Regions from separate parts of the Homo sapiens genome. Here all the other regions are linked to region 2. The links come from fine-mapping of genetic effects on gene expression. A gene starts in region 2. Each other region holds a variant in brackets. All regions are shown on one strand. Distances are from middle to middle. Region 1 overlaps ZNF670-ZNF695 (ZNF670-ZNF695 readthrough (NMD candidate)). Region 2 holds the start of SCCPDH (saccharopine dehydrogenase (putative)). Region 3 overlaps LOC102724382 (a long non-coding RNA gene).

Region 1 (10,443 bases), 230 kb after region 2:
AGAAAGACAAAATTGGTGTGTGCTTATGACCAAGGACTATGCTTGAATATACAACTAGGAAGGCCTCTCAAATGGTTTAAAAATAATTACTGAAAAGATTCAGACTTGCCATTCTTTTTGATTATATATAATCCTTTAAAAATAATCCACCCAGGCCAGGGGTGGTGGCTCACGCCTCTAATCCCAGCACTTTGGGAGGCCAAGGTGGGCGGATCACCTGAGGTCAGGAGTTTGAGACCAGCCTGGCTAACACGGTGAAATTTCATTTCTACTAAAAACATAAAAAATTAGCTGGGCGTGGTGGCACGCTCCTGTATTCCCAGCTACTCGGGAGGCTGAGGCAGGAGAATTTCTTGAACCCGGGAGGCAGAGGTTGCAGTGAGTAGAGATTTCGTCACTGCACTCCAGCCAGGGCAACAGAGCGAAACTCCGTTTCAAAAAAAAAAAAAAAAAAAAAAAAAAATCCACCCAATATAGAAACAAATGACAATTACAGGGATTTGTAAAGCTATTAACATTTCATTGCTCTCCTGGCTCTGTCTCTTCCTAGTTGAGCAGCTTTGGACAAGGTACTTGACCACTCTGTCTCGGTTTCTTCATTTGTAAAATGCAAAATGACAGTAGTTTCATCCTCCTAGGATGACTGTGAAAATTAAATGAGTAAACTTGTAAAACAGTAGCTATTCTTATGACCACTCCAAATTGAAAAATATCAAACAGGTATACCCTGTTCCTCCAAAGTCATGTCAACTTGTTTACTATCAAACAATATACAGTTAGTAATAAAACAAAGGTATGACTTCATGTCCCTTTTGTTACAGAATGAGTGCAATTCATATTGTAGGAATATTGTGCTTTTTACTCAGTTTAAGTGTTGTCATATAGTTGGTCTGAAATGGAGGCACCGAGACACCCTCAGTATGTGTCATTATGTCATCATTATAAAAATCACCCTAGCCCTTGGGCCTGGACTCTTGGTCTCTGTTATGCGCTGAACTGTGTTCCCCAAAAAGGTATGCTGAAGTCCTACCCCCAGTATCTCAGAATGTGACCTTTTTCGGAAATAGAGGCACTGCAAGTGCAATTAATTAAGTCGTCATGCTGGAATAGGGTGGGTCCTCATACAATCAGAAGGGAAAACAGACACGGAGGGGAGATGGCCACGTCGAAGGTGGTGGAGGTTGGAGTGATGTTGCCACAAGCCAAGGAATGTCTGGGGCTACCAGAAGCTGGGCGAGGCAAGGAAGGATTCTTCCCTAGAGGCCTTGGCAGAAGTCAGGCCCTGCTGACACCTTGATTTCAGACTTTGAGCCTCCAGAACTGAGATAATACATTTCCGATGTTTGAAGGCACACCATTTGTGGTGTTTTGTTATAGCAGCCTTAGGAGACTATTACACGCTCCTAGACCAGAAACTAGAACAAAGAGGCAAGTCTCAGGTCAACCACAGAGGCCCTGGTCCTTAGCTACAACGATCCAAATTGTCAGGAAAGCCAGCTTCTGTGTGGAAGATCCTTCCTGTGGGAACTGCTGAGACCTGGTAAGCCAGGTGCTGGCACAGCTGGGCCAGCCCTTTGGGACTAGAAAGGGATAGAATGAGCCCCATAGGCTTTGTCAAAGAGGTTTCCCTGACCACCCTACCTAGAGTGCACCTTCTCCCCCCGCTCTTTGTCCTCTTACCTTGCTTTTTCTTCACAGCACCAGTTCATCTTTGTTTACTGTCTGGCTTCCCAAGTACCACTATATATTTTTGAGACAGGGTCTCGCTCTGTCGCACATGCTGGAGGGCAGTGGTGTGATCTTGGCTCATGGCAGCTTTGACCTCCCAGGCTCAGGCGATTCTCCCACCTCAGCCTCCTGAGTAGCTGGGACTACAGTCGTATGTTACCACATCTGGCTAATTTTTGTATTTTTAGTAGAGACAGGATTTTGCCTTGTTGCCCAGGCTGGTCTCGAACTCCTAGCCTCAAGTGATCTGCCTGCCTCGGCCTCCCAAAGTGCTGGGATTATAGGCGTGAGCCACTGTGTCCAGCCCCCAAGTACCACTTCTACCACCAGAGTGGAAGCTCTATGAAAACAGAGACCACAGATGATAATTTCAAATTTTCTTTAGTGTCCTTTGTATTTTGCACAGGTGATTTAAACATTTTATTTATTTTGTGTCTCCTTGCAGTTTGCAAGTTGTTTTCCTCTTTAATCAGAAAAAGGATATTAAAAACTGTAAGCTTTCTATAAAGTTTTGTTCACAGTTCATATCTCCAGCACATATTAGGTATTCAATGAATATTTGTTGAATGAATGACTAGAATAAATAATGTTATGCTTCTTCTTCTTCTTTTTTTTTTTTTTTGAGGCAGGGTCTCACTCTGTTGCCCAGGCTGGAGTACAGTGGTGCAATCACAGCTTACTGCAAGCTTGAACTCCTGGGCTCAAGTGATCCTCCCTCCTCAGCCTCCTGGGTAGCTGGGACTACAGGTGCATTCCAGCATGCTGGTGTTATGCTTCCTTTATTCTCCATATTTAATTCATCTTTTATTCCTCAACAGTATTCAGCAACTTCTTTTCAGAAACTATTGATTTTTGGCCAGGTGCAGTGGCTCACATCTGTAATCCCAGCACTTTGGGAGGCTGAGGCAGGAGGATCACTTAAGCCCAGGAGTTCAAGAGTTCAAGACCAGCCTGGGCAACATAGTGAGGCCTTATCTGTATAAATTTTGTTTTAAAAAAGAAATTATTGCCAGTCTCAGCCACAATGAAGGAAACCTAGGAAAGGATGTGACCCTACTTGAGCCACAATTTAGAAGGGCATGTCCACCCCACAATCCTCTGAGGTTCCCAATGGCTGGACTGTAATACTTCCCTAGGCTTTCGGTGTAATACTAAGTTTGTTCTACTCTACTAGATATTTTCTTGTCATACGCTCAACTTCAGGCCTCCTTTGGAGGGAGGCTTAAGGGAACATTGGCAGATTCCAACGTATTTAAATAATTAACATGACATTCCTAGCTATTGTTTTATTCATTGATGAATTTTGGAATGTCATTACAAATTGTAAATTTGGACCTAGATGCTGATTGCTTATTTTCAGAAAACCTACAGAATAACCTCAGTAATAAAAACAAAGTGGGCCACGCCTGTAATCCCAGCACTTTAGGAGGCCGAGGCGGGCGGATCACGAGGTTAGGCGACCTAGACCATCCTGGCTAACATGGTGATACCCCGCATCTAGTAAAAAAAATATAAAAAATTAGCCAGGCGTGGTGGCACACGCCTGTAGTCCCAGCTACTCGGGAGGCTGAGGCAGGAGAATCGTTTGAACCCGGGAGGCAGAGGTTGCAGTGAGCCAAGATCGCACCACTGCACTCTAGCTCTGGGTGACAGAGCAAGACTCCATCTCAAAAACAAACAAAAAAACAACAAAGAAATGGGCCCTGCGTAGTGGCTCACGCCTGTATCCCAGCACTTTGAGAGGACAAGGTAGGTGGGTCACCTGAGGTCAGGAGTTCAAAACCAGCCTGACCAACGTGGTAAAAATACAAAATTACTACTAAAAATACAAAAATTAGCTGGGCATAGTGGCAGGCACCTGTAATCCCAGCTACTCAGGAGGCTGAGGCAGGAGAATCACTTGAACCCAGGAGATGAAGGTTGCAGTGAGCTGAGATCACGCCACTGCACTCCAGCCTGGGCGACAGAGTGAGACTGTCTCAAAACAAACAAACAAACAAGCAAAAAAAAAAAAAAAAAGAAACCCGAAAAACAAAGAAGCCTAAAAACTCAGGGTAAGTGTAGAGCTTGGGACTCTGCTAAGACTCAACAGTGCCCTAGAGGATAGCCATTCAGTATTATCATAAATCCTCAAGTCTTCCATTTTGCCATCCTTAAAACAACTGTTTCTGAGCACAGGGACACTGGCACATGAATGAACGAATGACTTCAGTTTGTCCTCAACTGTCTTGCCAATCAGGCCAACCTTAAAGCTACAGAAGGAGATTGTCCTGAATTTCCCTGAGAGCCAACGGCACTAACAACTGTTAAACCAGAAGAATAAAAACCCAAATATTGGCACACACTCCCCAAACATGTTGTCCAGCAGTTGAAAGCCAAGGACAGGAACAGGCAATGCCTGCCAGCTGTTCCAGGGGAAAGGGTCCAAACTGATCTTAGACTCAGCTTTGCTTGAGTTCAGCCCGAATTGCTGGAGAAGATCCACCAACCTTCCAGTGGCCTAAGATTGATCCAAAACTGGCAGTCACCGTTCCCCAAAGGTGATACTATTATTTCAGCTCTCACAAGAAAACCCATGTAACTGGAAGATGAAGAACAAAAATCAGGATAACACAAGATTCTGATTGTCTTGTCTAATGTACAGGATTTGGAATCAGGCTTCTATATATGGAAACCATGTGTGTCTAGAGCCTTAAGTTTCATGCAAATTCCTGTAAAATGATCACTGATCAGATCATCTGTAAAAATGTGGAATCTGGATTAGACGATCTCTCAGGCCACTTCCAGCTCGAAACTCTGACTTGCTATCTCTATATTCTTATAGGGTTTTCTTGCTCACTAAGTTTTTAGGAAAATAATAACTGAGAAAATAAAAATTTAATACAGTCATACAGTCATCTCAGGATACATTCTGAGAAAATCATTGAGTGTACTTACACAAATCTATATAGTATAGCCTACTATACACCTAGGCTATCAGGTAAGGCCTTGATATGGTTTGGCTGTGTCCCCACCCAAATCTCATCCAAATCTCATCTTGAATTGTAGCTCCCATAATCCCCACGTGTCATGGGAGGGACCTGGTGGGAGGTAATTGAATCATAGGGGGAGTTTTTCCCATACAGTTCTCACGACAGTGAATAAGTCTGCACGTGCTTTCTTGCCTGCCACCATGAAGATGTGCCTTTGCTCCTCCTTCACCTTCCACCACGATTGTGAGGCCTCCCCAGCCATGTGAAACTGGATCCATTAAACCTCTTTTTCTTTAAAAATTACCCAGTCTTGGGTATTTCTTCATAGCAGTATGAAAATAGACCAATACAGGCCTATTGCTCCTAGGCTACAAACCTGTACAGCATGTTACTGTACTGAATAGTGTAAGGAAATCATCACACAATGGTAAGTATTTGTGATAGAAATTTTTCAGCTCTATT[G/A]TAACCTTAGGGGATCACTGTCGTCTATGAGGTCCATCATTGACTGAAACTGTTATGCAGTGCTTAACTGTATTATGTGACAAAATGTGTATAAGTAATTTTATTTAATTAAGAGTAGAAGCTCTCCCGCAGTGTTCTCATATACTCTAAACTCTAAAATTATCATTCTACTCAGTATTGCTGATCTCTTCATTGAGCTTGTAAACAAACACCTACACAGAACAGAACTAATTAATTTTAATCTAAATCCATTTTCTTTTGTACAAAGGAGGCTTTTTCCCCAAGATTTGTTTCAATCCTTTAGCCTAAAATGATAACGCCCTATATTTACCTAGCGATGTTAACTTTTCAAAGTCCGTTCTTTTCTACCATCTCTCTAGAATGTAGGCTCCTAAGAGTACTACTGTCTTCTGGACAATGTCCAGCACACAGAAGGTGCTCAGTGAGTCCCAGCTGAAGAAAGTGAATATGATGCTCACAAGAACTCCCTGGGTAGACAACGGTCTCATCACTAACCCCTTACTTGACAGATTTAGGTACGGAGGCACGGGAGCCAGATGAGGACATTAACCAAAGATACCCACATGCCAGATATTAGTTTGGATTGGATTTTTTTTTTTTTTTTTTTTTAAGACAGAGTCTTGCTCTGTAACCCAGGCTAGAGTACAGTGGCATGATCTCGGCTCACTGCAACCTCCACCTCCTGGGTTCAAGCAGTTCTCTGCCTCAGCCTCCCAAGTAGCTGAGATTACAGGCTTCGGCCACCAGTCCCGGCTAATTTTTTTGCATTTTTAGTAGAGATGGGGTTTCACCAAGTTGGCCAGGCTGGTCTTGAACTCCTGACCTCGTGATCGACCAGCCTCGGCCTCCCAAAGTGCTGGGATTACAAGCATGAGCTACTGTGCCCGGCCGATTGGATCATTATTTTTAAAAAAATCTATAAAAGATGGTCATGGGGGCCGGGCGCGGTGGCTCATGCCTGTAATCCCAGCACTCTGGGAGGCTGAGGCAGGCAGATCACTTGAGGTCAGGAGTTTGAGACCAGCCTGGCCAACATGGTGAAACCCCGTCTCTACAAAAAATACAAAAATTAGCCGGGCCTGGTGGCAGTCACCTATAATCCCAGCTACTCAGGAGGCTGAAGTAGGAGAATCACTTGAACCCGGGAGGCAGAGGTTGCAGTGAGCCGAGATTGTGCCGCTGCACTCCAGCCTGGGGGACAGAGTGAGACTCTGCCTCCAAAAATAAAAAAAAGATCATGGGATAATTGGGGGTATGTTAATATTGAATTGCCCATTCTATGTTATTAGATATCATGAAACTATTATTGTTATTATTTATTTTTATTTTTGTAGAGATGTGGTCTTGCTGTGTTGCCCAAGCTAGTCTTGAACTCCTGACCTCAAGTGATCCTCCCACCTTGGCCTCCTAAAGTGCTAGGATTACAGGCATGAGCCACTGCGCTGGGCCTATTTCTTGAGATGATAACGTTGTTGTGATTACTCAGTATAACGTCCTTATGCTTAGGAGATGCATGTTGTGACTGTAATATTTACAGGTGGTATCATGATATGTGAAATGAACTTTCTATTGGTTCAGTAAGAAAAAAAGAGATAAAGCAAATATTGAATTAATAAAATGTTAGTATTATCTGCATCTATATGGAGAATAAATGGTATTCTTTGTACTACTCTTTCAAGTTTTTAATTAAAAATTGGGAAACAGGCCGAGTGCGGTGGCTCATGCCTGTAATCCCAACACTTTGGGAGACCGAGGCCGGCAGATCATGAGGTCAAGAGATGGAGACCATCCTGGCCAACATGGTGAAACCCCGTCTTTACTAATAAATACAAAAAATTAGCTGGGCGTGGTGGTGCACTCCTGTAGTCCCAGCTACTCGGGAGGCTGAGGCAGGAGAATCGCTTGAACTAGGGAGTTGGAGGTTGCAGTGAGCTGAGATCAGGCTCCTGCACTCCAGTCTGGGCAACACAGCGAAACTCCGTCTAAAAAAAAAAAAAAAGAATTGGGGAACACAAGCAACGAAGAAACCACAGCAGAAAATCGTATGTCTGACTATAAGAAAACTTTAATCTTCTCTAATTATGGTTAATTTGGGTGGTAGGACTATATTGGACTATTCTTTTCATCTTTTTCTAAATTTTCCACGTGAGCAGATATTTATAATAAAATATTTTAAAATTCAAATTATGTAGCAATATGAGATAAACCTTCAATACCTTTCTAGAAACACATTGTGGCAGATTGGGTTTTTTTTTGAGATAGGGTGTCACTCAGCTTGCCCAGGCTGGAGTGCAGTGGCATGATCTTACCTCACTGCAGCCTCGAGCTCCTGGGCTCAGGTGACTCCTACATTAGCCTCCCCAGTAGCTGGGACTACAGGTGCACACCACCAAGCCTGGCTAATTTTTTGTATTTTTAGTGGAGACAGGTTTTGCCATGTTGCCCAGGCTGGTCCCAAACTCCTGGTCCTACAGACGTGAGCCACCACACCCAGCCTTGTATTTTCTAAAGATGGTTGCACCTGTATATTTATTACTACATGCATCCTACATGCCTTTTCTATGATGAGTCTGACACTTCTCCCACAGAGACGTTGGATCTATGTTTCTTCTCTTTGAATCTAGGCAGGGACTTGGTTTTTGTTTTGTTTTGTTTTGTTTTTGTTTTTGTTTTTTTTTTGAGACAGAGTCTTGCTCTGTCGCCCAGGCTGGAGTGCAGTGGCGCGATCTCGGCTCACTGCAAGCTCCGCCTCCCGGGTTCACGCCATTCTCCTGCCTCAGCCTCCCGAGTACCTGGGACTACAGGTGCACACCACCACGCCCGGCTAATTTTTTGTATTTTTAGTAGAGACAGGGTTTCACCATGTTAGCCAGGATGTTCTTGATCTCCTGACCTCGTGATCTGCCCTCCTCGGCCTCCCAAAGTGCTGGGATTACAGGCGTGAGCCACTGCACCCAGCCGGGACTTGTCTTATGATTGCCCCAGTATTGAAGTTTGGCAAAAAGTCACAAAATATGTGACTTTGAAGGCTAGGTCATAAAAATGAAGAAACCTCCATTTATTTTTCCTTCTCTCTTGGGATCCTTACCCTTAGAACTCAGCCATCACATAGTAAGGAGACTCAGGCCACAGACAGGTCTAGTGAGGAATTCTGGCTGACATCCTCAGCTAGTCCCCAGCCATGAGCAAGCATCAGCTGCTGTCATGATCCTGAGTGAATGATCCCTCAGAGTCCAGGCGCCAGCCTTTGAGTCTTCCAGCTGATATCCCTGACAATGTGGGTCAGAAACCAGCCATCCATTCTACGCCTGGTGTGAATTTCTAACCATGGAAACGGTGCGAGATAATACACGATGTAACGCATGATTGTTGTACTTTAAGCCACCCCATTTTCGGGTGATTTGTTATGCAGCCATAGTAACACGCGGGGACAGTGAAGTCCTCTAAGGTGAAAAGTGTGTTTGCTATTGGTTTAAGAAAGCGAGTGCCACTCACGGGGAAGAAGAAGTGTCTTGTAAATTATCACTAATCTCCTCAGATGTCAATGAATCAGATACTGTAAATTATCCTTACTCTCCTCAGATGTCAGCGAATCAGATACTGTGTCTTGGCCAGGTGCGTTGGCTCACACCTGTAATCCCAGCACTTTGGGAGGCCAAGGTGGGATTGCTTGAGGCCAGGAGTTTCAGACAAGCCTGGGCAACATAGCAAGACCCTGTCTCTACAACAAAATTTAAAAATTAGCCGGGCATGTACCTGTAGTCCCAGCTACTTGGGAGACTGAGGCAGGAGGATTGCTTGAGCCCAGGAGTTTGAAACTGCAGTGAGGTATGATCTCACCACAGGACTCACTCCAGCCTGGATGACAGAGTGAGACCCTGTCTCAAAAAAAAAAAAAAAAAAAAAAAAAAAAATATATATATATATATATATATATATATATATATATATATAAAATCTCTTTTCTGAAAGAAGCATTTAAATGTTGAAAACACATTATCTGCTTATTCTAGAACCCAAAATGGGCATTTTTTTTGTTTTTGTTTTGAGACAGAGTCTCACTCTGTTGCCCAGGCTGGAGTGCAGTGGCACAGTCTCGGCTCACTGCAACCTCCACCTCCTGGGTTCAAGCAATTCTCCTGCCTCAGCCTCCCAAGTAGCTGGGACTACAGGCGAGCGCCACCATACCCGGCTAATTTTTGTATTTTTAGTAGAGATGGGGGTTTCACTATCTTGGCCAGGCTGGTCTCGAACTCCTGACCTCGTGATCCACCAGCCTCAGCCTCCCAAAGTGCTGGGATTACAGGTGTGAGCCACCGTGCCTGGCCCAAAATGGGCATATTTTTAGAACCTAGACTATTGAGCTTGTCACTTTTTCTTACAATGTGCCACATTCTGCACCAATGATGCAGGAAATTAACAGCTAGATGTTCTTAGTTCTCCCTCTCCGTGGCGGTTCTGAAGATAGGCGGTGAAAGTGGACTGTTCCTCAGAAGCAAAAACTCTCCAGTGTTTCTGATCCATTAGTTCCGTAGCAATGTATGAGTTTTCATAACTATGGTTATGTATTTTGGTAAGCTGCTATCTTCATGCAACAGTCAATTTCACTGAACTTCATTTCCTCTAAGTATGTTAGATTACATATTTCACAATGTATTATTTGAAACAAACCAATCTCATTGAAAAACCCAGTTGAGAAGCTTCATGAATAATTTAACTGCTTGCTTTTCCTCTCAGATTTCACACATTTTGCCACGTCATTATTTAAGGAAACTTTCTCATATTGTAATACTTCCTCTTTTCTATTCAAAGAAATTGTAAACATATCAGCAAAAAGGGAACCACAGTTTTATCTGGAACACTAATATATTTAGAGTGAACAACACTGCCACCCTAAGATTTCCCAGTAACCTAGATGCATTTTGCTGTACTCAAGCAGGCTGATATGATTGCAGTTTGGGGAAAAATTTATATTATATAGAGTGTGGTTTCTTTTGGAGTGGTTTGCTAGTTTCTCCAATGCTGTTTGTCATATATGTAAAAGTAAAAACAGTTGGTATTGTGTAGCAGTATAGAATACTACCTATGTTCTCTCTCTATATATATGCCCCAGAGAACCATTTGTTTCCATTCAGAGTGATAAGGTTATACAAGACCTACTTGGCCATGCAAGACAAGTTCTTTTCTTCATTTCTGTCTACAAATTCAGATCATTTCTCCATAGTTCAAGATAGCTATCTATCCTTCAAAGAATGGTACA
Region 2 (10,443 bases):
TGGCAATCATTAAAAAGTCAGGAAACAACAGGTGCTGGAGAGGATGTGGAGAAATAGGAACACTTTTACACTGTTGGTGGGACTGTAAACTAGTTCAACCATTGTGGAAGTCAGTGTGGCCATTCCTCAGGGATCTAGAACTAGAAATACCATTTGACCCAGCCATCCCATTACTGGGTATATACCCAAAGGATTATAAATCATGCTGCTATAAAGACACATGCACACGTATGTTTATTGTGGCACTATTCTGTTGCGGGAAGTCAGGGACCCTAAATGGAGGGACTGGCTGAAGCCATGGCAGAAGAACGTGGATTGTGAAGATTTCATGGACATTTATTAGTTCCCTGAATTAATACTTTTATAATTTCTTATGCCTATCTTTACTGCAATCTCTAAACATAAGTTGTGAAGATTTCATGGACACTTATCACTTCCCCAGTCAATACCCTTGTGATTTCCTATGCCTGTCTTTACTTTAATCTCTTAATCCTGTCAGCTGAGGAGGATGTATGTCACCTCAGGACCCTGTAATAATTGCATTAACTGCACAAATTGTACAGCATGTGTGTTTGAGCAATATGAAATGTGGACACCTTGAAAAAACAACAGGATAACAGCAATTGTTCAGGGAATAAGAGAGATAACCTTAAATTCTGAGTGCCGGTGAGCCGGGCAGAACAGAGCCATATTTCTCTTCTTTCAAAAGCAAATGGGAGAAATAACACTGAATTCTTTTTCTCAGCAAGGAACATCCCTGGGAAAGAGAATACGCACCTGGAGGTATAGGCCTATAAACAGCCCCCCCCCAGGTGCACCTGTCTTTTATGGTTGAGACTGCAGGGGATGAAATAGACCCTAGTCTCCCATAGGGCTCCAAGGCTTATTAGGAAGAGGAAATTCCCGCCTAATAAATTTTGGTCAGACCAGTTGATCTCAAAACCCTGTCTCCTGATAAGATGTTATCAATGACAGTGGTGCCCGAAACTTCATTAGCAATTTTAATTTTGCCTCGGTCCTGTGGTCCTGTGATCTCGCCCTGCCTCCATTTGCCTTGTGATGTTCTATTACCTTGTAAAGTACTTGATGTCTGTGACCCACACCTATTCACACACTCCCTCCCCTTTTGAAAATCCCTAATAAAAACTTGCTTGTTTTTGCGGCTTGTGGGGCATCACAGAACCTACTGACATGTGATGTCTCCCCCAGACGCCTGGCTTTAAAATTTCTCTCTTTTGTACTCTGTCCCTTTATTTCTCAAGCTGGCCGACACTTAGGGAAAATAGAAAAGAACCTACGTGAATATCGGGGCAGGTTCCCCAATACTATTCACAATAGCAATTCTTGGAACCAAGCCAAATGTCCAACAATGTTAGACTGGATTAAGAAAATGTGGCATATATACACCATGGAATACTGTGCAGCCATAAAAAGATGATGAGTTCATGTGCTTTGTAGGGACACGGATGAAACTGGAAACCATCATTCTCAGCAAACTATCACAAGGACAAAAAACCAAACACCACGTGTTCTCACTCATAGGTGGGAATTGAACAATGAGAACACATGGACACAGGAAGGGGAACATCATACACCGGGGCCTGTTGTGGGGTGGGAGGAAGGGGGAGGGATAGCATTAGGAGATATACCTAATGTTAAATGATGAGTTAATGGGTGCAGCACACCAACATGGCACATGTATACATATGTAACTAACCTGCACGTTGTGCACATGTACCCTAAAACTTAAAGTATAATAAAAAAAAGATTTATCATGTATTCTTAACATTTTGTGTGCATATACATACATTGTTTTGTCTTAAATATACTCTTGTAATGTTAGGAAATTTGGAAGATTTTCCGTGTCACTATACACAGTTTTGTTTTGTTTTTTTTTTTTTAGAAACATAGCCTTGCTCTGTTGCCCAGGCTGCAGTGCAGTAGTGTGATCATGATTTACTGTAACCTCGAACTCCTGGGCTCAAGCAATCTTCCCACCTCAGCCTCCCAGGTAGCTAGGACTACAGATGCACATCACCACACCCAGCTAATTAAAAAAAAAAATTTTTTTTTTTTTTTTTTTTTTTTTTAAGAAATGGGGTCTTGCTACATTGCCTAGGCTGGTCTCAAACTTCTGGACTCAAGTGATCCTCCTGCCTTGGCTTCCCAAACTGCTGGGATTACAGGCGTGAGCCACTGTGCCCAGCCTACTTCATTCTTTTGTTTTTGTTGTTGTTGTGTGTTTTTTACCTAGAACCACCTGAATAGTCATTCTTCATTCTTTATAGCTGCACAGTTCCTATTGAATGAATAGGACACCATAATTTATTTAATAATTCCTCTGATAAAGGACATTTCAGTTATTTCTACTTTTTGTTATTACAAAGCAATGCTGCAATGACCATTATGTTAGTCCATTTTTGCGTTGCTTTAAAGGAATGCCTGAGGCTGGTTAATTTATAAAGAAAAAAGTTTATATTTTGGCTCATGGTTCTGCAGGAAGTACATCAAGTGTAGTGCCAGCATCTGCTTCTGGTGAGGCCTCAGGAAGCTTCCAATCGTGGCAGAAGGTGAAATGGAGCCAATGTATCACATGGTGAGAGAGAGACCAAGAGAGAGAAGGATGAGTGCTCTTTCAACTACCAGCTCTTGTATGAACTTATGCAGAGAGAACATACTCATTATCCTGGGGATGGCACCAAGCCATTCATGAGGGATCCACCCCCATGACCCAAACATCTCCCACCAGGCCCCACCTCCAATGCTGGGGATTACATTTCAACATGTGATTTGGGGGGGCCAAACATCCAAACCATAGCAAGCATGCTTCCCAAAAAACAAAATATATATATATATATATATATATATATATATATATATATATATATTCTGTTTTTTTAGGGTTTTTTGTTTTCTTTTGTTTTTATTTTCTTTTTAGAGACAATATCTCACTTTGTCACCCAGGCTGGAGTGTAGCTCACTATAACCTCCAACTCCTAGGTTCAAGCAATCCTCCTGCCTCAGCCTCCCAAGTAGCTGGGACTAAAAGTGCATGCCACTGTACCTGGCTCTGTAAGATTATTTTTTAGTGACTGTTTACTCCACTAGAATGTAAACTTCTTGAGGGCAGGGGCTTTATTTGTTGCCATATCCCCAGTACTTTATTCCTAGTGCCCAGTATATAGTTAAGTGTTTAATAAATACTTGAATGCTTACTACTTTACACCCACCAGATGGACAAGCATGAAGTCTGAGAATACCAAGTGCTGACAAGCACGTAAAGCAAGAGGATTCTTGTATCCCGCTGAGAGCGAAAATTAGTGCATGTGCTTTAAAGAGCAGTGAGATAACTCAAATATGGATATTCTAGCACCAACCATTTTCATTCCTGACACATATTCAATACACTTTCGCACAGGTGCTTTAGGAGAAAGGTACAAGAATTTTATTGTAGCATTCTTTGTATTATATTGCACAAAAGCACTATACAACATTGTACAAAAGCATTGTAGAATTTGGTGTATTTCTCTCTCTCTCCCTCTCTCCACACACGTATCACAGACATTTTTTTTTATTCTGAATCATTTGGGAATAAGTTCACGACATCATGACCAAATAAGAAAGCTGCAGGATTGACATTTACAAAATATTCAAAATATGCAAAACGGTACTATAATATTTATAAATACATACATATATAACAAGCAGAAAGATAGGAATAGGAATAATAAACACTAAATTCAGGCAAGTGGCCGTCTTGGGGACGCAAAAGGAAATGTGTTCAGGAATGAATACCTGGAAGCCTCGCTATCTGGAATATTTTTCTTAAGCTGTGTTGAGGGTACATATTTGTTATTGGCTGTACCTTTTTTGCAAGACATATATTTCAAAATTTTTAAAAGCATTCATTTATTCCTATTTTAATGAGAGTTTTTAAAAATCAGGAATGGGCTGGGTGCAGTGGCTCATGCGTGTAATCCCGACCCTTTGGGAGGCCGAGGTGGGTGGATCACCTGAGGTCAGGAGTTCGAGACCAGCCTGGCCAACAAGGTGAAAACCCATCTCTACTAAAAACACAAAAATTAGCAGGGCGTGGGGGCGCTCCCCTGTAATCCCAGCTACTCGGGAGGCTGAGGCAGAATCGCTTGAACCCAGGAGGCGAAGGTTGCAGTAAATCGAGATCGCGCCACTGCGCTGCAGCCTGGGCGACAGAGTGAGACTCCATCTCAAAAACAGAAAAGAGAAAAGAAAGGGAAAAAAGGGAAGAAAGAAAGGAAGAAAGCAAGCAAGCTCAAGGGTTCTCGGGGTGGGCCATCCCCGAGGCCATCCGCAGATTTTCTCGCACTCTTTGCTCCACCCCCACGTGCAACAAGGACAACCGGCTGCCGCCTCCAGCTTCCAGCAGGGCTAGAAGATGCGCTGCCCGGGGCGGCCAGAGCCCTGCAGAACAAACCGCCGCACGGAATTAGGGGCCGCCGTCCGCGCCTGCCAGGCTTGGAAGCGGACTCGCCCCCAGGGCCACCGCCCTAGGAAACCTCCCGTCGGAAGCCTCCCAAGCAAGCCGCTCACCCGCGGCTCCCGCGCGAGGCGGCGTGGGCGTGGGCGCGGCCCTGGCGCGGCGGCGCGCGCGGGGTGAAGGGAGCCCGGCGCGCTGGCTGCGGCGACGGCGGCCGTTGCTGCGCCGGGTACTGGGGTCGCTGCCTGAGGCGCAGGCGCCGTGGACTCCACCCGCCCCGGGGCCTGGGCTCGCTGTGGACTCGTCATGGCGACCGAGCAGAGGCCTTTCCACCTGGTGGTGTTCGGCGCGTCTGGCTTCACCGGCCAGTTCGTGACCGAGGAGGTGGCCCGGGAGCAGGTGGACCCGGAGCGGAGCTCCCGCCTGCCCTGGGCCGTGGCGGGCCGCTCCCGGGAGAAGCTGCAGCGGGTGCTGGAGAAGGCGGCCCTGAAGCTGGGTACAGCGGCGGGGCGGGACGGGGCTGCGCGGGCGGCTGGGCCGGGGACCCCGCATCGCCCCAAACGAGCGTTTCTCCCGCAGGGATGCGCCCTACGTGTCCCCGAGCCCTGCGTGAGGACAAGAAGAGGAGAGGGAGAGATGTTTCAAATACTGCCATAGCTTTGTCCCACCTCCTTAACTATATGTGTGTGTGCGCGTGCGTGTATAATATACACACACATTTTTTTTTCTTTCCTTCTCCTCTTTCCCGCTTTTTGCATTTCTGCCTCAGTTTGGGGAGCTCCCCTGGCGAAATGGTCAAGAACTTGAGTTGTCCCTCTCTCTGCTTCATCCTGCCCCGCAGCGGGGGCACCTGTTGAATCTGCGGGTTTCTAGATGTTTGGTCGGAGAGGAGAGGAGGGCTTTGGTCTCTTGGAGATCGGAGTCTCCCTTTGCCTCGTGTTTTGAGGACGGGAGAGCAAGCTTACGAGTTGTACTGACAGTGTCTTTGTGGCTATTCTGTTTTAGTTTCTTGTTTTGTGTGTAAGAATACTCCAGCAGTCTTCCTCTTCAGAGAATAAAAAGTGTGTATTTCTGGTTTAGACGCTTACGTATTCTCTAAGCATTCAGGTAGCATGTATTTATTGATAATCTAAGCATTCAGGTAGCATATATTTATTGATAATCTAAGCATTCAGGTAGCATATATTTATTGATTCTCTAAGCATTGAAGGAGCATATATTTATTGAGTGACGTTGTCCATGCTAAGACCTGTCCCGAGTCTGGGGTGCAGGATGGGACAGAGAGGAGACAGACACACGGATCCTGCTGCCTTCATGGCTGGGGAGACATCTGACTTACGACTCCGTAGCCTTTAAATTTGGCTATTAACTCCCGTAGATTTCCCTTATACAGACACCCATTAGAGTTCTGGAAATACTACATTCTTTCTGTTTAATCTACTTTCATACAATGCCCTGCTCGGAGTGCTTTTGTTCGTGGTTATGTACAGAAGACACCACGTAGGCTGGACTCTCCTACAGCTTTTGGTGCTGACACTACCAACACGTAATTCTGACCAAAGAGCTTTTTGGTCGTTATTTTTCCAACAGAAGTAATTTTACTATGAAAATATATGCTTCCATTTCTTTTTTCGGCTCAGCAAGATCGTACCGGTACAGCCTAGTCACTTATCATATATAATGCCCAAATCAAGTTTCATTGTGGGGGGATATACCTTCACCTATTGAAACCTGCATCACTTAGTTGAGCCAGTTAATTCCAATTATTTTCTTATGAGCCTGTGTGTGTTTATATAGCGTGTGCTTTTCACCTCAGAGTTCTAATTTTTTGTTTTTTGTTTGTTTGTTTGCCATTCTCCTGCCTCAGCCTCCTGAGTAGCTGGGACTAGAGGCGCCCGCCACCACGCCCTGCTAATTTTTTTAGTAGAGACGGGGTTTCACCGTGTTAGTGAGGATGGTCTCGATCTGCTGACCTCGTGATCCACCCTTCTCGGCTTTCCAAAGTGCTGGGATTACAGGCGTGAGCCACTGCACCCAGCCCTGATGGTTTTGATGTTAACAGTCAGTCCGAAACTCTCCATCACCTACAATTGGATCATAGTAATTGTTTAGTGGTTGATGAGAAACTTTATTTTTTTAAAGACAAGTTCTCATTCTGCCACCCAGGCTGGAGTACAGTGGCGTGATCACAGCTCACTGCAGCCTTGACCTCTGTGTCTAAGTGATTCTACCGCCTCAGCCTCCTGAGTAGCTGGTACTACAGGCTATGCCACCATGTCAGATAATTTTTTTTTTTTTTTTAGTAGAGACAAGGTCTTGCTATGTTGCCCAAGCTGGTCTGGAACTCCTGAGGTCAAGAGATCCTTGCACCTTGACCTTCCAAAGTGCTGAGCCACTGCCCCTGGCCAAGAAACTATTTTATGACATAAATTTCTTGTTGGAGAGGAAGTCTGGATAGTTATCTGCTCAGCATTTAAACTTGATTGTGAAATTGTCATGTTACACAGGGTTGTTATTTACACAACGCTTTGATTCGATTTTTTTTAAAAGGTCAGTTTTTTAGTAACTCTTAGTGTTAACTCAGTTTTCCTCATAATTTTTTCCTTTTGTATTACCTGATTAAAAACAGTTTTATCTTTTGTCTAAGCAGGAGAGCTAGCTTTCAGCATATCAGTGTATTTAGTAATTTGCTGTCACTGATTACTGTAAAAAGAAGATAAGGAAGATATAATCCTCTACTGGGATTTACTTTCCTTCATTTGTTTCTTATTTTAGGAAGACCAACACTGTCATCTGAAGTTGGAATCATCATCTGTGATATTGCTAATCCAGCCTCGCTTGATGAAATGGCTAAACAGGCAACAGTTGTCCTCAATTGCGTAGGACCAGTAAGTAATCAACCCTTCTTTGTATCAGAACAAACAATCCATTCATTTCTAGCAAAATATTCCAGAGGAACATAAGGACAGAGGACAGAATTGTTGGTTGAAGGCCTTAACCCCATATGGGGAGTTTTTTCTTCTTGCGAGGAGCAGCTGGAGATGACCAAAGTCTCCTGAGAGAGTGAGTGACAGGCTCTCCATGACGTTCTCCTTAGGGCATGTGTGCTGGCTTGTTGATTGGTTACATCTGTGATTGTCAGAATTTTCTTTCCTTTTTACTATATACCCCTTCGGTAAAAAATGTTTGAGTGTGTCTCCCTAGTATATTTTTTATTTATAAATTATATTCTTGTACTACTGGGTAAATATATTTTTTAAATGCACAAAAAGAAGACTAAAAAACGACTCATTTATTGAATAAATATTTATTGATGCTTACCACATGTGAAATGCACTATTGTAGGCACCTGGGACACAATGGTGAACAAAACAGAAAATCCCTCGTGGACATTACGTTCTTGGGGAAGACAGAAAAATAGGATTGTAATAGGAGGTAATGAAAAGTGCTTTGAAGAAAAGTGAAGCCAAGAAAGGAGAAAAGGTCCTGGCATATTGGTGTTTTTAGATGGATGGTCAGGGAAGGTTTCTGTGAGGAATTGACATTTGAGCCAAGATCTGAATGAAATGAGAGCAAATTGCATGAACCTTTTGAGGAGAGACTTTTCCAGGGACAGCAGGCACAAAGGTCCTGAGATGCCAGTGTGCTTGGCAAGACTGAAGAGTGTGACAGAGGCCAGTGTGGCTGGGCATGGCAGAGAGGTGGAGAGTGGATCAGAGAGCAACCCGGGAGCTGGGTCATGTGGGATCTTACGGGCCATGGCCAGGATGTGGATTTTTTTTCCAGGTGTGACCAAGAGGCGTTGAATGGTTGAAAGGAAGGGCTTCAGCTGATTTAAATTGGAAGTTCTTTGGCTTCTGAGTGGAAAAGTAGATAACAAAGGATGAGCAATGGAATGGTGCAAGCACAAGCCCTGGGGTCGTAGTGGTGCTGAGAAGTAGTTAGGTCCAGAGTATATTTTCAAAGGAGAACGGCTTTTGCTGTTGTACTGTGAAAAAGTCATCAAGTCACAGGCCATCAGACTTTTGGCCTGTGTAACAAGGTGAATGTTGGTGACATTTAGTGATCTGAAGAAGCCATCACAGTTGGCAAGATGTTTAAAAATTAAATATCTAAAATATTAATAATTTTTAATTGAGAGCAAAAGGGTTTTTGAATTGCTATTAAATAGAAGTGTTGTTGATTTAGATTCATCTCATTCTTAACTAGCTTAGATTCCATCCATGAGGTCCACTGCTGCACTCTATAATGGACGCCCTCATCTATCTCCCTTGCCTTTTTCTCCTCAGTACTCTGGAAAAATCCCAGCCCTGGTTATTCTCTGCCTGCTCTTCACCTGAACATGAGTAACACAGTGTGGCTGGAGAAAAATGTATCCCCCTGCTAACTGGTCACACTTCAAATATGTGTTTACAAACGTTGTGTGGTGCTTAGCACCTCCGGCAGCTCTGCTCTATTTCCCTCAGGAATTCTCTCTCCTGCTCTCTGAAGCAGCTCACAACCTTGTTTTCCTTGAACTTTTAGTATCCCGTCTCTCTTTCCTTGTTCTTATCTGATTTTATTTTTCTTTTTTTTTAACTATGAAAATAGAAGCTGGTTAATAACAGAATTTCTTTCTTCATCTTCCTACCACCAGATCTATCTACCTACCTACCTGTCTGCCAATCTGCATCATACCCTGTAGTCTGCCATATCTCTTGTTACAAGGAAAAACTGGTCCTCTTCCTATTGGGCACAGTTTTCAAAGACTTTATTATCGGGGGAACCAGCCCCCAGTATTTCAACATAGGTTCTTTTCTATTTTCCCTAAGTGTCAGCCAGTCTGAGAAATAAAGAGAAAGAGTACAAAGAGAAATTTTACAGCTGGGCCTCTGGGGGTGACATCACTTGTTGACAGGTTCCGTGGTGCCCCTTGAGCTGCAAAACCAGCAAGTTTTTATTAGGGATTTCAAAAGGGGAGGGAGTGTACAAATAGGGAGTGGGTCACAGAGATCACATGCTTCAAAAGGCAATACGGTATCACAATGCAAATGGCAGAGCAAGATCACAAGGCCAGGGCAAAATTAGAATTACTGATGAGGTTCCATGTCCCGCTGGGCACGCACTGTCATTGATAAACATCTTAACAGGAAACAGGGTACGAGAGCAGACAACCAGTTTGACTAGAATTTGCCAGACTGGAATTTCCTAATCCTAGCAAGCCTGAGGGTGCTGCAGGAGACCAGGGTGTATTTCATCCCTTATCTTCAACTGCATAAGACAGACACTCCCAGAGCGGCCATTTTAGAGACCTCCCCCTGGGAATGCATTCCTTTCCCAGGGTTATTCCTTGCTGGGAAAAGAATTCAGTGATATTTCTCCTATTCGCTTTCTGCAAGAAGAGAAATATGACTCTCTTCTGCCCAGTCGCGCAGGCAGTCAGACATTATGGTTATCTCCCTTGTTCCCTGAAAATTGCTGTTATCCTCTTCCTTTTTTAGGATGCCCAGATTTCATATTGTTCAAAGACACATGTTTTACAGTTTGTACGGATAACTCAATCATCACAGGGTCCTGAGGCAACATACATCCTCAGCTTACAAAGATGACAGGATTAAGAGATTAAAGACAGGCATAGGAAATTATAACAGTATTGATTGGGGAAGTGATAAATGTCCATGAAATCTTCACAATTTATGTCCAGAGATTGCAGTAAAGACAGGTGTAAGAAATTATAAAAGTATTAATTTGGGGAACTAATAAATGTCCATGAAATCTTCACAGTTTATGTTCTTCTGCCGTGGCTTCAGCTGGTCCCTCTGTTCGGGGTCCCTGACTTCCTGTAACACTTTATGTTTACAATTACACATTATCTTGTTATCAAATTTCTCCTCTTTACTGGATTATTTCAATCAGCATTTAAATATGTGATATCTCCCATATTTTAAAAAAAGCTGCTTGATTCCACATACCCTTCCAACTACTCTACTTTTTGTGCCCCCTTTTTA
Region 3 (9,832 bases), 32 kb before region 2:
ATATCCCTGTGGCCTCAATTAGTGTTTTTTCTTTTTTTACATTTGAGATATAATTCATATACCATAAAATTCAAAAACTTAGTGAACAATTCTGTGGTTTTTAGTATATTCATGTAACCTGTGTATAAAGTTTCTTCCCCATAGTTATAGTATGTACACTTTTTTTTTTTTTGGCTATTTTCTTCACTTTGCCTAATTTCATCCTCATATTCCTTTTTTCTTTTTTTAAGAGAGGGTCTCACTCTGTTGCCCAGGCTGAAGAGCAGTGGTGAGATCACAGCTCACTGCTGCCTCAGTCTCCTGGGCTGAGGCAATCCCCCCACCTCAGCCTCTTGAGTAGCTGGGACTATAGGCGCATGCCACTATGCCTGGCTCATTTTTGTAGTTTTTGTAAAGACAGGTTTCTCCATGTTTCCCAGGCTGGTCTCAAACTCCTGGGCTCAAGCCATTCGCCCGCCTTAGCCTCCCAAAGCGCTGGGATGACAGATGTGAGCCACTGAGCCTGGCTGTAACCTTTCTTTATTCATTAGACATTTGGGTTTTCTACCTTTCTCTCTATAATAAATGAATACTACTGTAAATATTATTGTACAGATAGACCTTTATTTTGAACTATTATTATTATTATGATTTTAGACACAGAGTCTTGTTCTGTTGCCCAGGTTGGAGGGCAGTGGTGTGATCATAGCTCACTGCAGCCTAAAACTCTTGGACTCAGGTGATTCTCCCACCTCAGCCTACCAAGTAGCTGGGACCATAGCTGCACGCCCCCACGTCTGGCTAATTTTTTAAAATTTTTGTAGAGACAGGGTCTCCCTATGTTGTTGCTCAGGCTGATCTCAAACTCCTGGGCTCAAGCGACCCTTCCACCTCCGCCTCTCCAATTGCTGGGATTACAGGCGTGAGCCACTGCACCTGACCTTGAACTTTTTACTTAGAAATACATTCAGAGGTTTTTGGATTACTGAATAAGGGGTAAGATTGTTTTAAGGCTCTTGTTTTATTATTTTCCTTCAAAAAGACGGAACCCCTGTAATAAACTGGTGACACCAGTGATGTTTACACGTCTGTATCCAATACTTGACCAGCACTGGGTTCATTATCACCTCCATTTATGCCGGTAGGTGTAAAATGGTACATGATATAATTTTAAATTTAATTTCTTTAATAACTGGAGAGGAAGCAAGCCTTCCTACCCTGTGATTTTAAGCATCTAAAAGGAAGCTTCATGTGGTAGACTTGCTCTCATCATATCACACTGCTAAACAAGGATCTACAGCGCCTAATTCTGTTAGATTCAAATCTAAACATAACACATAGTTGATGCTAAATGTCTATTTCATTGCTTTATGGCTTCTAAAATCTGAATATTTCCCCAACGGAGAGTAATCTGAGGTATTATGCATCATATATATATATATACATTTTTTTTGCAACAATGTCTTGCTCTGTTGCCCAGGCCCTGGCGTGCAGTGGCACTACCATAGCTCACTGCAGCCTCCATCTCCTGGGCTGAAGCTGTCCTCTTGCCTCAGCCTCTCAAGTAGCTGGGACTACAGGCATGTACCACCAGGACTGGCAATTTTCTTAATTTTTATTTTTCATAGAGACATCTCACTATGTTGCCCAGGCTGGTCTCTAACTCCTGGGTGCAAGTGATTCTCCTGCATGGCCTCCCAAAGTGCTGGGATTACAGGCGTGAGCTGCCACGCCCAGACCAGTTTTTCCATCTTGGACTCTCAGCTCCAAATTCCCCCTTTTGGACTACTCTGTGAAAATGGATCTGGACCTTTAAATATTTTTTTCCCGGGCTAGCTAGCACTGAAATCTTGCCAGTAGAGGGTGATAGAGAGACACGGGAGAAGGAGAAGAGGTTGACTTGCCTCTGGGTTCCAGGGTGCTCACTGGGTGGTTCCCCCAGTGCCCCGCTCCTACAGTGACTGCAGCCAGCAGCACCCAGGAGACGGAACCTCCCCGCCCAGCCCGGCGCCCGCCAGCCCTGGTGCCGTTTTTATAGCAGCATGCCTCTAGCAATCAAGACACCTGGCACCTCGGAGGGCCGACTTCCAGAAGGATTTGCCACAGGGCACCACAACAACTTCTCTGCCATTCAGAGTCACAGCTGCACAGGTCTGGATCTCCGCCTGGGGCCGGCGTGGGGGCTCTCTCAGTCCTGGGGCTGGTTCACTGGAGTTTTCTTTCTTTGTTACTAGCCAGCCCCTCATGGCTGTAATCCCTTGCTCTAGTAAATAATTCTTTATATTGAATTTTCTCTGTTCAAATTACTACGTGATTTCTCTCTCCGGACTGGACTCAGACTGATACAAGTATGGACCCCCTAGAAGGAACAACAAATGGAGCTGCCGTCTATATACACACGTGAGATGGAATTCGTGTTTTAGATCCTTTCCAACACCTGGCTGTCTCAGAGGGCGGAGGACACGGGTCCCACCTCACACGTGGCAGCCGGCCCTGGCGCAGGCACCTGTTCCCAGCTGAGGCAATCAGAACCCACCTGGGATTTTTTTTCATCCTCGAAGCCAACTTCTCTCCCTTAAACTAAAGCAGAAAGAGTGTGAGGATGTGACTTCAGAACTGCCTGCTCCATCCCTTGCCCAGGGGGAGGCTTAGAGTCTGATGGGGCTGGGCACCGTGGCTCATGCCTATAATCCTAGCACTTTGGGAGGCTGAGGCGGGCAGATTGCTTGAGCCCAGGTATTTGAGACCACCCTGGGCAACATGGTGAAGTCCTGTCTCTACAAAATATATGAAAAATTAGCCAAGCGTGGTAGTGCGTGCCTGTAGTCCCAGCTTCTCAGGAGGTTGAGGTGGACGGATGGCTTGAGCCCGAGAGGCGGAGGTTGCAGTGAGCATGCCGTGGCACTCCAGCCTGGGCGACAGAGCAAGAGTGTGATGGACTCGAAGATGAGAGATGGCAAAACAGAGAGAGACTCCTAATGTCATCTCCCACCCTTTTAATGAGACAGGATCTGCCTCTGTCACCCAAGCTGGAGTGCAGTGGCACAATCACAGCTCACTGCAGCCTCAACCTCCTGGGTCAAGTGATCCTCCTGCCTCAGCCTCCCAAGTAGCTGGGACTACAGGCATGTGCCACCATGCCTAGCTAATTTTTTAAATTTTTTTAGAGATGGGGGTCTCACTGTCACTCAGACTGGAGTGCAGTGGTGTGATCATAGTTTACTGCAACCTCAACTTCCTGGACTCAAGTGATCCTCCCACCTCAGCCTCCTGAGTAGCTGGGACTATAGGCATGTACCACCGCACCTGGCTTATTTTTTAATTTTTGGTGGAGAAGGAGTCTCCCTTTGTTACCCAGGCTGGTCTCCAACTCCTGGGCTCAAGTGATCCTCCTGCCTCAGCCTCCCAAAGTGCTGGAATTACAGGCATGAGCCACCACGCCCAGCCCAAGGCCGTCTTTGTGTTTCCAAATATTTTCAGACCAGTTTCGGTCTTTCCCCACCTATATTGTGGGGGAAAAAAAAGTAAAATGAAAAAATAAATTTTAAAATTAGAATTAAATGAAAAAACTAAAAAGTAAAAAAAGGGTATTCAATATCACATTGATAATTTACTCAATAATGAATCTTTTTATTTTTTCTTACCTAACCTAGGTCGATTTAGGTCTCTGTCTCTGGCAACTGAAAAGAGACCCAACAAAACATCTTACAGAGCACCAGGGCCAATTCTTGATGCGTCGTTAGATTCTGTGTAGCCAGAAAGCAGAAACAGAAACATATCCAAGCCAGGCGGAGGAAAAACTTTGAGGCCTGTTTATCCAGGTTCAAGACAATTTCTATTTAAAAAAAAAAAAAAGAAAAAAAGAGAGAAAAAAAAAGCTCATAACAGAATAAGTTCAGCTTCTCCTGAGTGTCAGAGCTAAGATCTAACGCCTCTGCTGGTTTCCATGACAACCACCAGCAGCTACAATCATGCCGAACCAAGAACCAGAGGATTCAGTAACTTTACCTTGATTCTGTGGCCAGATTATTGCCAATTTTAAAAGGAAATGCATAGTGAGCCCCTGTCTCTGTTGTGTCTTCAGTTGTCCCTTGAAATCTGGATATCTTGACAAGAGGCCAGGGCCTATCCTATCTCATCTCCCCAAGCTAGTGTCCTTCCCAGATGAATTTCTTCTGGCGCTGGTGAGATTACTTGGTGACCTAGTTCCGACTACACAAGTTATGCTGTCGTGATTGCTGGGGGTAATTGCTCAAAATAGCTCTCTGATTTGTTTCATAAACAGGCTCTGTGGCAGGCTCATGTCGTTTTTTCCCCAAAGAAGAGATTCCAGAGACGAGGCCTTCACTGAGAGCTTGCTCCTCTACCTCCTGTGGGTTTCAGGGCTGGGACGGGGGACACAGAGAATCTGTCTCTCGCGAATGCCAAGTTGAGGTCCTAGCCTGGCTAGGAACTCTTGCATTCCCCTTGCCTCGCTGTAGCCTCCCCTGGGAACAGACCTTCCAGGAGGGTCGCACCGAGTGATGAGACTGTTGCATGAGGCTCTGCAGTGCTTGGACACAGAACTGCACTGCGGCCTTCCAGATGCTCAGCTGGAAAACCCCTGAGAACCTGAGGCTTTTCTACAGCACATTAGAGCTTATGACTGGAGAGTGTCTACCGCCTGAGGGCAGGGATGAGATTTTACCTATCCTATTCACCTGCTTAGGTGCCCACTTCATCCTAGACTCCCTTCTTTTCCCTCCCTCCCTTCCTCCCTCCCTCCCTCCCTCCCTTCCTCCCTCCCTCCCTTCCTTCCTCCTTCCCTCCCTCCCTCCCTTCCTTCCTCCCTCCCTCCCTCCCTCCCTCCCTTCCTCCCTCCCTCCCTCCCTTACTCCCTCCCTCCCTCCCTCCCTCCCTTACTCCCTCCCTCCCTCCCTCCCTTCCTCCCTCCTTCCCTCCCTCCCTCCCTCCCTTCCTTCCTTCTCTTTCTTGCTTGCTTGTTTGCTTGCTTGCTTGCTTCAGGGTCTCACTCTGTCACTCAGGATGGAGTACAATGGTGCAAACACAGCTCACTGCAACCTCGGCCTCCTGGGCTCAGGTGATCCTCCTACCTCAGCCTCCCAAGTAGCTGGGATTACAGGTGTGTGCCACCAACACTTGGCTAATTTTTTCTATATTTTGTAGAGATGAGGTCTCACTATGTTGCCCAGCTGGTTTCAGACTCCTGGGCTCAAACAATCCTTCCTCCTTGGCCTTCCAAAGTGTTAGATTACAGGTGTGAGCCACCTTGCCCAGCCTTTGATACACTTCTTGATTGAAGGAAGAGAGCCAACTTTTATTGAGTACCTATTATGTGCCTGGTGCTTGCATGCATGTCATTACTTTGGAGGCAGTATTGCAGAGTGCTCACAGGCAAGAACTCCAGTATCAGAAAGACCTGGACTTAAATCTCAGTTCTCCCACTTACAGTACTAGCTGTGGAAACTTCACTTGTTACTTAACTTTCCTGAGCCTCAGTTTTCTCATCTGTAAAGTGGGAATAATAATAAATCACCTCGTCAGGTTGTTATGAAGATTAAATGAGATCATGTGTATAAAGCACACAGTAAACATTCAATAAAGTTAGCTATTATTATTCCAGTTATTAGCAGCCACAAGATATAGGACATTGTTATACAGGAAGTTTAAATCTTGAAAAGGAAAAGTTCTAGAATGTATAAGCCTGAATATAGCATCTCCTCAAATACTGTTTGGATCAGTGAAAATGCTATTGCCCATGGTGACTCACACCTGTAATCCCAGCACTTTGGGAGGCCGAGGTGAAAGGATCACTTGAGGCCAGGAATTGGAGACAAGTCTGGGCAATATAGCAAGACCCTGCCCCTACCAAAAATTAAAAAATTAGCCAGGTGCCATGGTGCACACCCGTAGTCCTAGCTACTTGGGAGGTTGAGGTGGAAGTATCACTTGAGCCTGGGAGGTCAAGGCTTCAGTGAGCTGTGATCATACCACTGCACTCCAGCGTGAGTGACAGAGCAAGACCCTGTCTCTAAGAGAAAACTAGAAAGTGCCATAGTCTGAGTTGTTGTGGGAAGTCCGGGACTCCGAACGGAGGGACCGGCTGGAGCCGCAGCAGAGGAACATGAATTGTGAAGATTTCATGGACATTTATCAGTTCCCAAATAATACTTTTATAATTTCTTATGCCTGCCTTTACTTTAATCTCTTAATCCTATTATCTTTGTAAGCTGAGGATGTACATCACCACAGGACCACTGTGATAACTGTGTTAACTGTACAAATTGATTGTAAAACATGTGTTTGAACAAATATGAAATCAGTGCACCTTGAAAAAGAACAGAATAACAGTGATTTTTAGGGAACAAGGGAAGACAATCATAAGGTCTGACTGCCTGCAGTGTCGGGCAAAAAAGAGCCATATTTTTCTTCTTGCAAGTAGGAGAGATATCACTAAATTCTTTTCCTAGCAAAGAATGTTAACATTAATACCCTGGGAAAGGAACGCATTCCTGGGG[G/A]GAGGTCTATAAACGGCTGCTCTGGGAATGTCTGCCTTATGCGGTTGAGGAAAGGACTGAGATATATACCCTGGTCTCCTGCAGTACCCTCAGGCTTATTAGGGTGGGGAAAAACTCCGCCCTGGTAAATTTGTGGTCGGACTGGTTCTCTGCTCTCGAACCCTGTTTTCTGTTGTTTAAGATGTTTATCAAGACAATACATGCATCGCTGAATATAGACCCTTAACAGTAGTTCTGCTTTTGCCCTTTGCCTTGGGATCTTTGTTGGACCCTTATCAGTAGTTCTGCTTTGCCTTTTGTCCTGTTCCCTCAGAAGCATGTGATCTTTGTTCTGCTTTTTGCCCTTTGAAGCATGTGATCTTTGTACCTACTCTCTGTTCTTACACCCCTTCCCCTTTTGAAACCCTTAATAAAAAACTTGCTGGTTTGAGGCTCAGGTGGGCATCACGGTGATATGTGATATCACCCCCAGCGGCCCAGCTATAAAATTCCTCTCTTTGTACTCTTTCTCTTTATTTCTCAGCAGTCTGACACTTATAGAAAATAGAAAGAACCTACATTGATATATTGTGGGTGGGTTCCCCCGATATCAGTGAACTGCCCTTGGTGCTCGGCTGGAGACTGTATATTCCGTGCTTACCATGTGCTGGGCATGGTGCTTGGCTGGAGACTGTATATTCCATGCTTACTGTGTGCTGGGCATGGTGCTCGGCAACATGGTCCATGACCTTATGAAGTTTAAAATCTTGTTGCGGAGACAAGGCCAACAAACATAACATTAATCAGCAAATCAAGGCAGGACGCATTGCTGAACTCTACTTCTGGTAGCAAGTGCTACATGAGTTAAGAGGGAAAAGTAATAACTCAGCACCCGTTATGCTCTAGCTCCTGGATTGGAAACACCACCTTATTTAAGTTTTCATTAATTCTATAAGGTAGACTGGGTGTAGTCATGTAAGGCATGAAGAAACTCTGACTCAGCGAGGTTCAGTGACTTCCCAAGGACACACAATTACTAAGTGGCTGAGTCGGAACTTGAGCACAGCCTCCTGGCTCTGAAACCCTGCCAGAATACATTCTCCCAAATCAAAGCAAGTATCATCAATTTTGTTTTATTTTCTTTCTTTTTGTTGTTGTTGTTTTGTTTTGTTTTGTTTTTTTGAGACAGGGTCTTTCTCTGTTGCCCAGACTGGAGTGCAGTGGTGCAATCATAGCTTACTGCAGCTGTGAACTCCTGGGCTTAAGCGATCCTCCCACCTCAGCCTCCCGAGTACTTGGGACCACAGGTGTGCACCACCACGCCCGGCTAATTTTTCAAAATTTTTTCATAGAGATGGGGTCTCACTGTATTGCCCAAGCTGGTCTCAGACTCCTGGCCTTGAGGGATTCTCCTGCCTCAGTGTCTCAAAGTGCTGGGATGACAGACATAAGCCACCATGCCCAGCCCATCAATCTCATTTTCTACAAGAGGAAGCAGGAGGTCAGCGAGGTAAGGGACTTGTCAGAGGCACGGAAATAGTAGCGGGCTGAGCTGGGGTTTGGGTGCAGGCCTGTCCATCTCATGATCTCATGATCGAGGATGCCTCTTACAGCCTGTCATGGGTACCCTTCCTTCTACCAGGCGAGGGACCTGGCAGTGCTGCATTGAGTCTCTGGAGCTCATTTGACAGATAAAGAAACTGAGGCCTCCAGAGAGGCTTTTTCTAGTCTAGCCTCCTCACTGTCAGTCACACCCATTTGCCTTGGCTTGGCTGCCCCACACCTGCCAGGCTCCCTCTGCACCCGCGCCCCCTATATTCAAGCTCACCTACAAAACCCACCTGTTCCTCAAGACCTGGGCTGTCGCAGCCTCTCCAGCTCCACTTGGGGACCTGGGAGCTCCTGAAAACGTGTTTTCTTGGTTTTGTTTTTGTCTTATTTTGTTTTGCTTTGAGATAGAGTCTCGCTCTGTCGCCCAGGCTGGAGTGCAGTGGCGCGATCTCGGCTCACTGCAGCCTCCACCTCCCGGGTTGAAGCGATTCTCCTGCCTCAGCCTCCTCAGTAGGTCTCAGTAGCTGGGATTACAGGCGTGCGTCACCCGCCCGGGAGCGTGTTTTTAAGTGTTCAGGTACTATAGCAATGAACATGGATCATTGTCCATTTCTTGGCTCCTGGTAGCACTCAGTCAATGTTTGCTGAAGTGATGGGAAAATCAATGAATAAGCCACAGCACCGGCAGCCAGGACAGGATCCTGCTGAGGACTCAGACCAGGGGCGCCGCCTCTTGCTCGCAGCGCAGGGGAACGAGCCTCACCTTTGACCTTGTCTCAGCAGCGCCACCTCGTGGTTTCCAAAAGGAACAGCATCATGCTGGGCGCAGGGGCCCTGCCCTGCGGTGACTGAAAGGCGTGTGTGTGTGTGTGTGTGTGTGTGTGTGTGTGTGTGTGTGTAGGCGTGTGTGTGTGTGTGTGTGTGTGTGTGTGTGTGTCTGTGTGTGTGTGGTGAGGAGGGCCCTGCGCCTTGCCTGTCAGCTTTATGGAGGTGCCCCAGCTCGCTGGAGGAAAAGAATGCTGACCAGTGGCCCGAAAGGATTTTCCCGAATCCACTGGGAATGGGAAGGATCCTGTCAAAAATCCAAAGGGAAATGATACAACCAGGAAGCCTTGGTGCCCTTACAGGAACAGACAAGCCCCTTTCCCACGCTGTCATGTGGCATGAGGACACTCTCACAACCACAGTCACACACCCGGGAGCCCTGCCTGGCTTCAGCTGCCCGACATCCCTCGGGAGTCAGAGCAGAGGCGCACACGGAGGGCTCCGGCCTCCAGAGCGTGGCCCAGCGGCCGCAGGGGAAGGGGCAGAAATAAGCCACCTTCTCTCCAGAACGCTGAGCAGCTCAGGAAGCCGCTCGGGAAAGCACCTCTCTGATCCAGCCCCGAAGGCAGTGCCTTCTTTCTGCCCCTGCTGGGTCAAGGTTTTCTCAGCCACACCCTAATCCAATCGGTATTCGCAATCCAACTATCACATGTTTGTTAGGGGTTTTTTGTTGTTGGTTTAAATCTTTCTTTTTTTTTTTTTTTTAAGAGATGAGGTCGGCCGGGCGCCATGGCTCATGCCTGTAATCCCAGCACTTTGGGAGGCTGAGGTGGACGGATCACAAGGTCAGGAGTTGGAGACCAGCCTGGCCAGTATGGTGAAACCCCATTTCTACTAAAAATACAAAAATTAGCCGGGCGTGGTGGTGCACACCTGTAGTCCCAACTACTCGGGAGGCTAAGGCAGGAGAATCGCTTGAACCCAGGAGGCAGAGGTTGCAGTGAACCGAGATCACGCCACTGCACTCCAACCTGGGTGAC

What was found. PIP is the estimated chance that this variant, and not a neighbour inherited with it, causes the effect.
Region 1: its variant is the best candidate, but not a certain one, in a credible set for the expression of SCCPDH in whole blood (TOPMed, PIP 0.61).
Region 3: its variant is the best candidate, but not a certain one, in a credible set for the expression of SCCPDH in whole blood (TOPMed, PIP 0.73).

The regions. Positions count from the first base shown.
Region 1 is chr1:246,950,215-246,960,657 of GRCh38, forward strand. The region is part of intron 6 of ZNF670-ZNF695 (ZNF670-ZNF695 readthrough (NMD candidate)); the gene reads right to left. It also overlaps a transcript of ZNF695 not described here. Among named protein-coding and RNA genes, the nearest start is that of AHCTF1, 23 kb to the left of the region's middle. The variant G/A (reference allele first, on the strand shown) is at 5,163.
Region 2 is chr1:246,719,661-246,730,103 of GRCh38, forward strand. SCCPDH (saccharopine dehydrogenase (putative)) reads left to right here and starts at 4,749. Exons shown (of 12, transcript NM_016002.3): 1 at 4,749-4,952; 2 at 7,232-7,344. The coding sequence starts at 4,763. RefSeq lists an enhancer at 4,183-4,342 and silencers at 4,553-4,682, 4,723-4,792, 4,893-5,102, 9,833-10,033.
Region 3 is chr1:246,687,836-246,697,667 of GRCh38, forward strand. It overlaps LOC102724382 (a long non-coding RNA gene), which reads left to right. Exons shown (of 3, transcript XR_949364.3): 2 at 2,318-2,379; 3 at 3,633-4,694. Among named protein-coding and RNA genes, the nearest start is that of SCCPDH, 32 kb to the right of the region's middle. RefSeq lists an enhancer at 1,999-2,519. The variant G/A (reference allele first, on the strand shown) is at 6,498.